Linked DNA regions of Homo sapiens. The protein of the gene in region 2 interacts with the protein of the main gene of each other region in a pairwise test. Each region holds a gene or a part of one and is shown on either strand. Other genes may lie near its edges.

The links. Proteins that work in one complex are often made in the same cells at the same time.
Region 1: the proteins of CSDE1 (region 2) and WNK1 interact in a two-hybrid assay, tested with the Homo sapiens proteins (one large-scale study listed by BioGRID).

The regions. Positions count from the first base shown.
Region 1 is NC_000012.12:901,586-906,701, forward strand, and holds part of WNK1 (serine/threonine-protein kinase WNK1), read left to right. Parts: intron 1-5,116. UniProt on the Homo sapiens protein: Serine/threonine-protein kinase component of the WNK1-SPAK/OSR1 kinase cascade, which acts as a key regulator of blood pressure and regulatory volume increase by promoting ion influx.
Region 2 is NC_000001.11:114,736,931-114,742,046, forward strand, and holds part of CSDE1 (cold shock domain-containing protein E1), read right to left. Parts: intron 4,744-5,116; exon of another isoform or gene 4,735-4,743; coding exon of another isoform or gene 4,597-4,734; intron 2,961-4,596; coding exon 2,762-2,960; intron 1,143-2,761; coding exon 1,033-1,142; intron 634-1,032; coding exon 541-633; intron 1-540. UniProt on the Homo sapiens protein: RNA-binding protein involved in translationally coupled mRNA turnover.

The DNA.
Region 1 (5,116 bases), on a different chromosome or scaffold from region 2:
TGAACAGGTGACATTCAAACCTGGTGGCAGGAGGACCCGATTTCTGAGTACGCCCTGCTTGGCTCTTTGTGTGTAACACCTTTACTCCTTCCTTGTCCTTGTGTTTCTGCTGCTTGGATCTGATGTTTCACGCAGTCCATTTTCATTTGTCTCTTTTTGTATATCATCTACTCAGTGGCTTGGCTGAATTACTGTTACCCTCAGAAGTTTGGGCCCCCACATTAATTATGATAAAAAATGTCAAAATAACAAGTTATCTACAAATTTCAATGTAACTTTCTGGTAGAAGTGCTTCTTCATGGATCTGTGACAGAGAGTGGATATGGTATCTAGGCAATAGATTGCTGGGTCATTTAGAATAATGAAGACTGAACTCCACAGTCGTAGTCAGTGCTGTCTGTCTGCCCTAGCATTAGAAATGAGAGAAATCAGCCAGACACGGTGGCGTACACCTGTAATCCCAGCACTTTGGGAGGCCGAGGCGGGAAGATTGCTTGAGGCCAGGAGCTCGAGACCAACCCTGGGCAACATGGTGATACCCCATCTCTAAAAAAAAAAAAAAAGTTAGCCTGGCATGGTGGTGTGCACCTATAGTCCCAGCTGCCCAGGAGGCTGAGGCGGGAGGATTACCACCTTAAGACCAGGAGGTTGAGACTGCAGTGAGCCATGATTGCACCACTGCACCCCAGCCTGAGCGACAGAGTGAGACTCTATCTCAAAAAAAAGAAACGAAATGAAGAAAGCATTTTGACCAATGATGCTCTTAGATCCTGGCAGCAGGTAAAAATTATGTACCATTTTTTTCCATTCTTTGTCAGAGTAGATTGAAATCTTATTTTTCTTCTCTATTAAGCCTAAGCAGCTACCAGTTGAAAAGATGCTAGGATCTCTTCATTGGATCATTCCACCACTACTGTCCTCTAACCCCATAAAATCAAAAGCGGTTTTTAGTTTGGTTATTCTGATAAAGCACTTAGTCTAATAAAGATCAAAGCCCAGCATCTGCAAGTGAAAATTCTCCTTCTAACATGATTTCTGGGATTTTGCAGCTTTCTACTTAAAAACAAGGCACAATAGCAAGTCACCCCATCTTCCCCATATGTGAAATGGAGATGATGCCAGTGTCCTAGGGCCATCGTACAAATCAAGCTAAGATCATGTACAGAGAAACAGGTAGCGCTTGAAAAGCACTCATGGTTTCTCTCTGATGAGTCAGTGCCTACCTGGCACAGAACAGGTAGTCAATAACTGTTCGTGGAAGAACAGTTTAAAACAAACAAAAACATAGTTCAAGTAGAAAAACCTTTGTTATAATTTGAATAAAGATCTTCTCTGTTAAGGCCTCAAACTTCTGATGTGATTATTGAAGTGCTTTTTACATGCATGTGCTCAGGCCATCACTGTTTCTGAGTATGGGTCAGAGGCCCTTGGGCCTCTTCACGGTGGGAAGAATTTACAACCTCCCTTTGTTCTCTGTAGTGACTAGATTTAAAGCGAAGCATATGACACGTTTAACTGCCATTTCCCTCACACATACCCCTGTTATTTTTACCTGCATTAGAAATGGATTGGCTCCTTCCAGCACCCCTATTATTTGTACCTGTATTAGTAATGAGTTAGCTGTACTTGAGAGGCAGTCTTTACTGACTTTCCCCACATGCACTAGTCCCAGGCTGTTTAACAAAGAAGCGGGTGGAAGGCATTACCCAATTCGATCGTTTTCCAGGCTTGTGTGATTTTTTTTTTGAGGACTCAGATCAATAATTTTTCTGGTCAGACTTTCCTGGACTGTGCATATTAGCACTTTGACAGTTGAATAAGCATTTAATTTGCATGTCCACCTAGAAAGTTGCAAGGGGGGTGTTTTTGAAGTAGAATGTGACATGTCAGGCCTATGGTCTACAGCCTGAAGTGTCTGAGAGGGAAGAAAGAGAACCAAAGCTTCTGTTTCTGAAATATAATGTGACAAATACCACTTTAATTAAATTCCATAAATTCTCATCCCACTTTTAAAGGTAGGTGGTATTACCCCTGTTGTTCAAATGAAAGTGGTCAGAAATATTGAATCTTGTCACTTCCCTTTGGGTGCAAAATGAAAGGCCCTACATCCTTAGAAGTCACATCAGGATACATCATGTAAGCCTGGTAAACAAATCCCAAGAGACATACTTGAAATATGGAAAGGAAACAGGTACTTGAAAGAGTAGGGCACCTTACTAGCTTGAGATGTATTATTCTATGCTCTCAAAATAGATAATGGTTTGGAAGCACGGCTTGGCTTACTGCTATATTTATGTTCAGAGGTTGCTTGTTTTCCACGTACTTTTAAAAACTATTCTGGAAGGGAAGGGGTTAGTATATATATGTGGGATGTGGAAATATAATAGCCAATTTAAATGAACTTAAAGCTGTAACAGTGATACTATCAGTCTACTGTGGTGGGGTTGCTAATGCATTTAACTGAGTGCTTTTTAACAGCCCAGCTGGAGAAACAGGAAGTGGGACAGGATCAGTGGAAACGCTGCTTGGGTATTTGAAATTCAAGCAGTGAGACCTGAGAGACTGGAGTTCCTCGCCAATTCCAGAACCTCAGTGCAGGGCATTACTCTTTTAGATACAAAGATTGGGTGTAGAAACTCCACATCTGTCAGCCACGTAACACAGCCCATCAGATAATCATGTTAAGGCTAACAGCCAGTTCGAAACATTCTGTAGAACTATATCTGTTCAAGGGCTACCAGGTCCTACCTATCTGTCTCACCTCCTGCTTTCTCTTGCTGGGCGTTTGTGTGCTGTTTGGAGATTCTAAATATTTTACACTGATGTTTCTTTATCTTTAACACATTGCTTCTCTCTTTGTGCTTCAGGGAAGATGGTGAAAAAAGTCTGTCCTTGCAACCAGCTCTGTAGTAATTATCTTTTCTGTTATTTTTGGTCCTTGATTGCAAAGCCTGTTAACCATGAGTTCTTTCAACTCTGCAGTCTCATAGCTCCCTGATTCCTAACTTCCATCTATCTCTGTATCCTATTCTAATAAATATTTAACATGCTTAATTGAGAAATCATCTCCTAGTCGGTGCCCTCAGTGATAACCCCATGTGAGCCTAGCTTGTGACAGACATGGATTGGTAATGGCCATGGGTATATATAGGGAGGTCAGGGATGCCTAGTTCCTATGGGAGAGCGATCCTTTGGTCAGCAAATATGTGCCGGGCAGTGTTATTACCCCAACTGGAAACTCAGCAGTGACGAAAGCATACAAAAGTCCATGCCCTCCCACGTTCACACTGAAGTGGGAGATGTGTGCTAGATTGACGAGGAGAAAAACACCACTTTCTAGAGTTTGTCTTCTTAGACTGTGGCTTCTCATACTTTAATGAGAAGGCCACTTACAGTGTTGTAGGTAGGGTCAACAGGGAAATTCTGTACTTGGGATGTTGGGCTGTAAGTTATGGTTCATAATAGGTTATTGTTAGTAGGATCTGGTGATGTGGGAATAGGGGAAATGTATTATAATGGCAGGAGGAAATTTAAAAATGAATCTTGGGGGTAAGTCTATACTACTTATTAGGGCTTTTCAGAAGAACTAAAAAAGGTTAAGAAGTTAGCATATTCTCTCAAAGGCCTTTCTACATCTTTTATAGTCAAGTCTCCTTTTCTTAGGAGTTAATTTCTGGTCAGAAAATGATAGGTTTGTTTCATTCTTTAATGGGAGGCCTGTATACAGAAGCCAGAACGTGAAGGTTTAGCTGTATGGTTGACTCTTCCTCATGGTTTCTCTTTCCTCATAGAGAATCCTGTATTAGGTAATGTAGGGTAAAATGAAAAGTGAAATTTCGTTCTAAAGGGGCCTCGCAGCATCAGGGGCGACAGACTAGAGAGGTGTGTCTCCCAGCATGAGCTCTGTGGATAAGCAATGGTCACGCCTCCTGAGCTTCTTGTATTTAGCTTTTGACAGCTCTGCTCCCCTGTGATTATTTCTGTTTTTTGTTTTGATTGTCTCTCACATCAAGCTCACCAAGCAATAATTGTTCAAACAGGATGACAATCCCCATGCATGTGATATGCTTGCTTTCTAGATTGAGTCACTCACTGTCATGACTGCCCATCCTCATTGCCTGTGCTTCCCACTTCACCACTCTCTCACATTGGCTGTTCATGGAAGGCTGTTTTCTGTGCTCTCATGCTTCTCCCCTCGCGTTTCCTGTACTGTAGGGAGCTTACTCTTCCCTTCACACTGTATGTGCAATAGCAATCCCCTTGTGGCTCCAGCAGACACCAAGAAATGAGCTGACACTCACACTGCAGTAGTTCCGTGTCTTGCCATAGCGGTAAGAAGCATGTGACCTTCCTCACTGCAGCTTCACCTCAGAATTAGCTGTTACTGCAGCACAGACCTGCTTGTGTGTGCCATTCCCCAGGTGGTAGGATATAAGCTTGACTTGAGACCAGCGATGGTCAGTAACAGGCTTTGAAGTGGCAGGATTGCGTTAGGTGTGCTGCTGTGATCTGGTGCTGCTTTGACCTTGAAAGCAGGATAACGCATGCACTTACTTACCCCCGCATTACTTGGGTACCTTAAGGACTAGTGGTTCACAACTTACTTTAGGAGCTTTTATTTATTCTGTAACACGTGAGATCTGGTAAGACAGTGGGGGGTAAGGAAAACAGACAAGACCATGACTCTTCTTTCCCTCTTCCCCAAAACGTGCCTCTTGGAATAATCTTCAGTGTGCCCTCCAGCAGAGCCGAAATCAGGCAGGCATAGACTCCCTCCTCTCTCATCAAACCGCAGAAATAGAGTTCCTTCATCATAACCGCAAAGCTTCCTCCTCCCCTTTGCACCCTGCCTCAGCTGCATTTTCTTGTCGCTTCTACATGGGAGTGCTTGCTGTTCTGGGAAGAGTGGGGAGAAGCGGTGGGAATCCTTGAGCCAATTGAAACTGAGGTCATCTTCAGGAAAACCATGTCTTCCTGAAGTTGAAAGATTCAGGCACACCATACAGTCCTTTCCTCATGAATAATCTTGTTCTTTACTCATGGGAAATTGGGAGAGGTTAACCCCTCCCAAGTTTATGTTTGCAAATTCATGTTTATGGGTCCAGGTGAAAAACTT
Region 2 (5,116 bases):
AACCTCTTATACTGGCATTTTAAGCCAAATTTCTTAAAATTAAATGCTTTATGACAAGTCACTTTATTCATATAAACACACACTTCCCCTCCATGGTGCTGATGACTTCTGCGAGTCCACAGCTGAGCAGCAATCCAACTTCAAAAAGCTTACACACGTGGAAGCATTTGCCCAGAGACTATAGTTACATTTCAAAAAAACAATTTTATATAAGGCATTCCAAACAAAAAAAGCTGGTGTTAGTGCTTAAAAGAAACCAGAAAAAGATCCCCCCCACAACCCCCAAAAAAGTGATTAAAAGGAACATTTTACCTTAATGTTCTAACTAAGGTCATACTTGGGCAAACTAAGACACTTGGAAGTCCTATGGAATTTTTCTTTTTAAATTTTTTGATTATGCTGCATTTGAAGCCTCTTAGAAACCAAATTTAAAACTGATTTTAACAATTGCAGCTTACGTTTTCTATTTTGAATTTTAAAGTACGCTTATAGATCACATGGTGGATCAGGCAAAGGTTTAAGAAAAATACACAAGTTTACCCCATTACGTTCGTAGCATACACTCCCTGTTGGACTCTGACCCGGGGCAGCTGGAGATTTACTCTCTAAGTTGTGAGGAACAGCGCACACAACCTACCAGTCAAAAAAAAAAAAATTTCCATTGCTAATCATTTCAGGAGCAGCACTGTGCAATATAAACTGAATTTTAATATCCTCTATACTATATACAGGGATGCATTTTAATATGATCCACAAGAGGATGTCATGCTGCCAAGTTTCAAACTTACAGTATGTAAATTGACTGTAAGCATTGACTCAGGGTTATATGTAAAAACCCAATTGAGTCTTGACCATATTTTTATTTCAGGTCAAGAAATGCCAGTGCTTTTGATTAATTTTAAAATAGTAATCTTTATATACTATAGCTCTCTTTCGTGCAAACTGAGGAGATGGGGAGAATCTTCCTTTTCTAATGTGAAAGATATGCAAATGCAGGGCCCTAAAAAAACACAAAGCATCAAAGTCACTAACTTGTCCATTCATTCGTTCTTCAGGGAGGATTTCTTGTTTTATCTTCACCAGTTTAACAGCAATGGGTTTCCCAGTCCGTCGGTCCGATGATACTTCAAATTCAACATCATCTAAAAATAAATAATGTGTTATGTTTGTTGAACTGATTTTTGCGAAACGATATATTGCTTCCAAGCTATACTTAACATAGCATTTGAATTGCCTTAGACCAGTGGTTTTCAAAGTGTGGTCCCTGGACCAGCAGCATTAACATCACCTGGGAGCTTAAAAGAAATACTGGGCCTAACTCTAGTCCTAGCCAAAGACAAACTCTGGGGATCAAGTATAGCAATCTGTGTTTTAACAAGCCTTCCACTAATTCTGATACACACAAATGTTTCAGAACCACCATCTTATGCTAAGATAGCCATGTCTTAATCTTAGTTTTTATGGCATTTACACATACTACAAATGAGATGACTTAACAATCATAACCTTTGGCGAGTTTTTTTTTTAAACTCCTCTGTACCTCAGTTTTCTCTTATGTAAAAGGAGAATAATTCCTAACAGGACTGCCATGAGGATTAACCAAAACAATGTTCCTATAGCATGCATCTTGTTAGCTATTATACTGACTCTTTTCTCAAACGTTTTTTAAAAATGCACAGAGGCCTCATAATTTCAGTCCTTTAGTAAGCCAAACACTTCACATGTAAAAACTTTTTTTTTTTTTTTTTTTTTTTTTTTTTGAGACAGAGTCTCCCTGTCACCCAAGCTGGAGTGCAGCGGCACGATCTCAGCTCACTGCAACCTCTACCTTGCGGGCTCAAGCGATCCTCCCACCTCAGTCTACTTAGTAGCTGGGACTACAGGCACATGTCACGTTCCTCAGCTAATTTTTGCATTTTTTGTAGAGATGGGGTTTTGCCATGTTGCCCAGGCTGCAAGCTGGTCTTGAATTCCTGAGCTCAAGCAATCCACTTGCCCTGGCCTCCCAAAATGCTGGGAATACAGGCATGAGCCACCATGCCAGGCCTGTGAAATAATTTGTATGGTGTCAGCCACAATGAATTTCCATATAATCTAAGAGGTGACTTTTTTTTTTTTTGAGACGGGGTCTCGCTCTGTCGCCCAGGCTGGAGTGCAGTGGTGGCATCTTGGCTTACTGCAAGCTCCGCCTCCCAGGTTCACACCATTCTCCTGCTTCAGCCTCCCGAGTAGCTGGGACTACAGGTGCCTGCCACCACGCCCAGCTAATTTTTTGTATTTTTAGTAGAGACGGGGTTTCACCGTGTTAGCCAGGATGGTCTCTATCTCCTGACCTCGTGATCTGCCCGCCTCGGCCTCCCAAAGTGCTGGGATTACAGGCGTAAGCCACCGCGCCCAGCTTCTAAGAGGTGACACTCTAAGGATTACTTTTTTCAGGTACTACCCAAAATAGTACCTGACAGAATAATCATAAGTAACATTACAAAAGTTCAATATTCGTACTGGCTTAAAATCTTACGGGTAAACAGTCATCATTATGGGGAAAAACAATGAAATCTTCCAAGCATTTATTGTAAATATATGCAAATATAATCTTTCAAGGATTCTGCTGGTTTATACAGATATTCTTCACTAAACAGTACAACTAAAAGTCCAAAATGTTTTAATTTACATAAAACTTTTTGAAAAACACTCATGAACAAATTGATATGCAAGACAAATTTTGTGATTACATTTTTACAAAGGAGAACTGACAGATTACCTCCTACTTTTAAGTCTTGCAGGTTGCCATTATACTGTGAACAGTGGAAGAAAAGTCTAGCTTGACGTTCTGAACACTGAATAAATCCGTAAGAGGTTAACAGTTTTTCAATAACCCCAGTTTCACGCAGTGCTGCTGAAGTACCATTAGGGTACCCATTATGTCCATTGTTGTGGAGAAGGTTTGGATCAAAGCTCATCTGTTTTAAAAAGAAAAAGAATATATACATATCTGTACATTATCTCCATAGCATATTAAGTCTGGTTAATAAGTCACTAAATCTTCCATATAAAAACGCAAAAAAAAGTAAAATGAAGGGAAGATTATAGACTTTATTACTGCAGCATTAATTTAGCTAATAAAACATTTCAGAGGAAACAACTTATTATATTGGGGAATTGCCCCAAATTATGGTAGAATTTCCACTTATCAGACAAAAATAGAATTTCTGGGGTTTAATATTAAGGTATAGCAACTACATTAGCAAATGCTGCCTTTACATGAAGTGAAAATTACTAAAACAACAATTTCAGAACAAAGGTAATTAATATTAAGAGACAGCGACCACAAACTACCAAAGACTCTTAAGAGATTTGGTAACGCTATTTTGAAACTTCAGCCAATACCTTAATACTGTTTAGTAAGTCATGCATTTGGAAGGCATATTTCAAGTTAGTAGAGATTAACACAATAAAATGAACTTTCTATGCAATACTTAAACTAGAAAATTTCAGAGTAATTCATGCTTAGGTCCTTTAATGAAAGACTATCCAAAATAGTGCAGTAGAAAACTTCTGAAACAACAAAACTCCAAGACAGCAAAAGCATTTCCATTTTAAAAATGCTGAATCATTTCACAGGTACATTTAAAGAAATCTTTACCTAAAAGAAACCCTTCACTTTTTACATACTGATGAAATCTGTAACTATCACTTCGTTCCCATTCTTTAGTGAAATAGGAGCTATTTAAAAGCAATATAATGGAATCTGCCTAGGTCATAAAATACTATCACATTGGATGTTCCATTTCCCTTCTTTGAGTAAAACAACAAAAACTATAAGTGAAGCACAAAACAGGACGAAATCCTTAGCAAAGCCTAGGTCTATAATTTACCACAGTAATGACATTTCTAAATCATTACAATTATGTTTTAGACCCTTTCACTGAAAATCTGATTTATAAGTATTTCCATTTAAGTGGAATGTTGGGCATTATTAATAAAAAGGATATATTTTCACTAGGAAAAAAGAGTAACAAATTCTAGAAAGATAAACCAAAGTTTGAGTCAACGATATGTGTGATGGTCAAATCACGTAAATCAAAGCCACCACACCTGTAGGTGGTTACGTCCTAATTCTTCTACACTAGCCACTGTTCTGTGTTTAACATATATTAACTCATTTAACTTTCACAAAAGCCCACAAGAAAGTATTGTATTCGCCTCATTTTACCAATGAGAAAACAGACACAGAGAAGTTAAATGACTTGCCAAAGTCAAATAGTAGAAGATTCAAACCAAGAAGGTCTGGCTGTAAACCAGGGCTTCTCAAATGAGAAGTTAAAATATAAAATCAGACTCAGTAGGTATGGGGATTTGAAATTTTCCATCTTTATTAAGATCCAAGGTGATAATAATGCTTCTGATTCTTAGATATACTTTGGGCAGTAAGACCCTAATCTACTGAAGTTATCTTTCAAGAGTGAAGGTGAAAAAAATGATTCGGGAAGTTAGAAGGTGAGTCGGCAAGATATTTCAACCAGAATGAGTGGCAATCCTAGGTCATGCTCTTAACACAAAGCAAGGTAAGCTGAGATGACTGCTTTCCTGACTTACAGATCTCTGATAAGTTGGGGTCCTCTTTTGTTTTTTAGTCCCAGATGAGGTAGAAGATGAAGATAAGGGTAAAGAAAGTGAAGGAGGGGCTGCAGGAGAGGGATGAGGATCTGATGACACAGTAAAAACGTTCTCCATCTCAAACAGCTGTTATAACATAGCATAATGTTGATAACTATGATCAATAACAATTTAATGCACATTTCACAGTCAATATATATTTTTAGCTTGGGTTTAGCGAAATATAAATTAGATTTCTATTGACAGGAAATACATAGAATTAACATTACTATAAAAGGTGAAATGTATTTTTTTTAAAGCCATTAAAACATACGATGACATCAACAATTCTGAAAATGCCACAAAGACTCTTGATGGTTGTTGGAGTGAGACTATTCAGTCCAATTTCTTTTCAATGCCGATCAACTTTAAATAGAACCTATCATTTTTAGTCACTAGTCTCCCTAGAGTACACACTGATAACCCAATGGGGTGCAGAAGAAAATAACTGGGACTATTT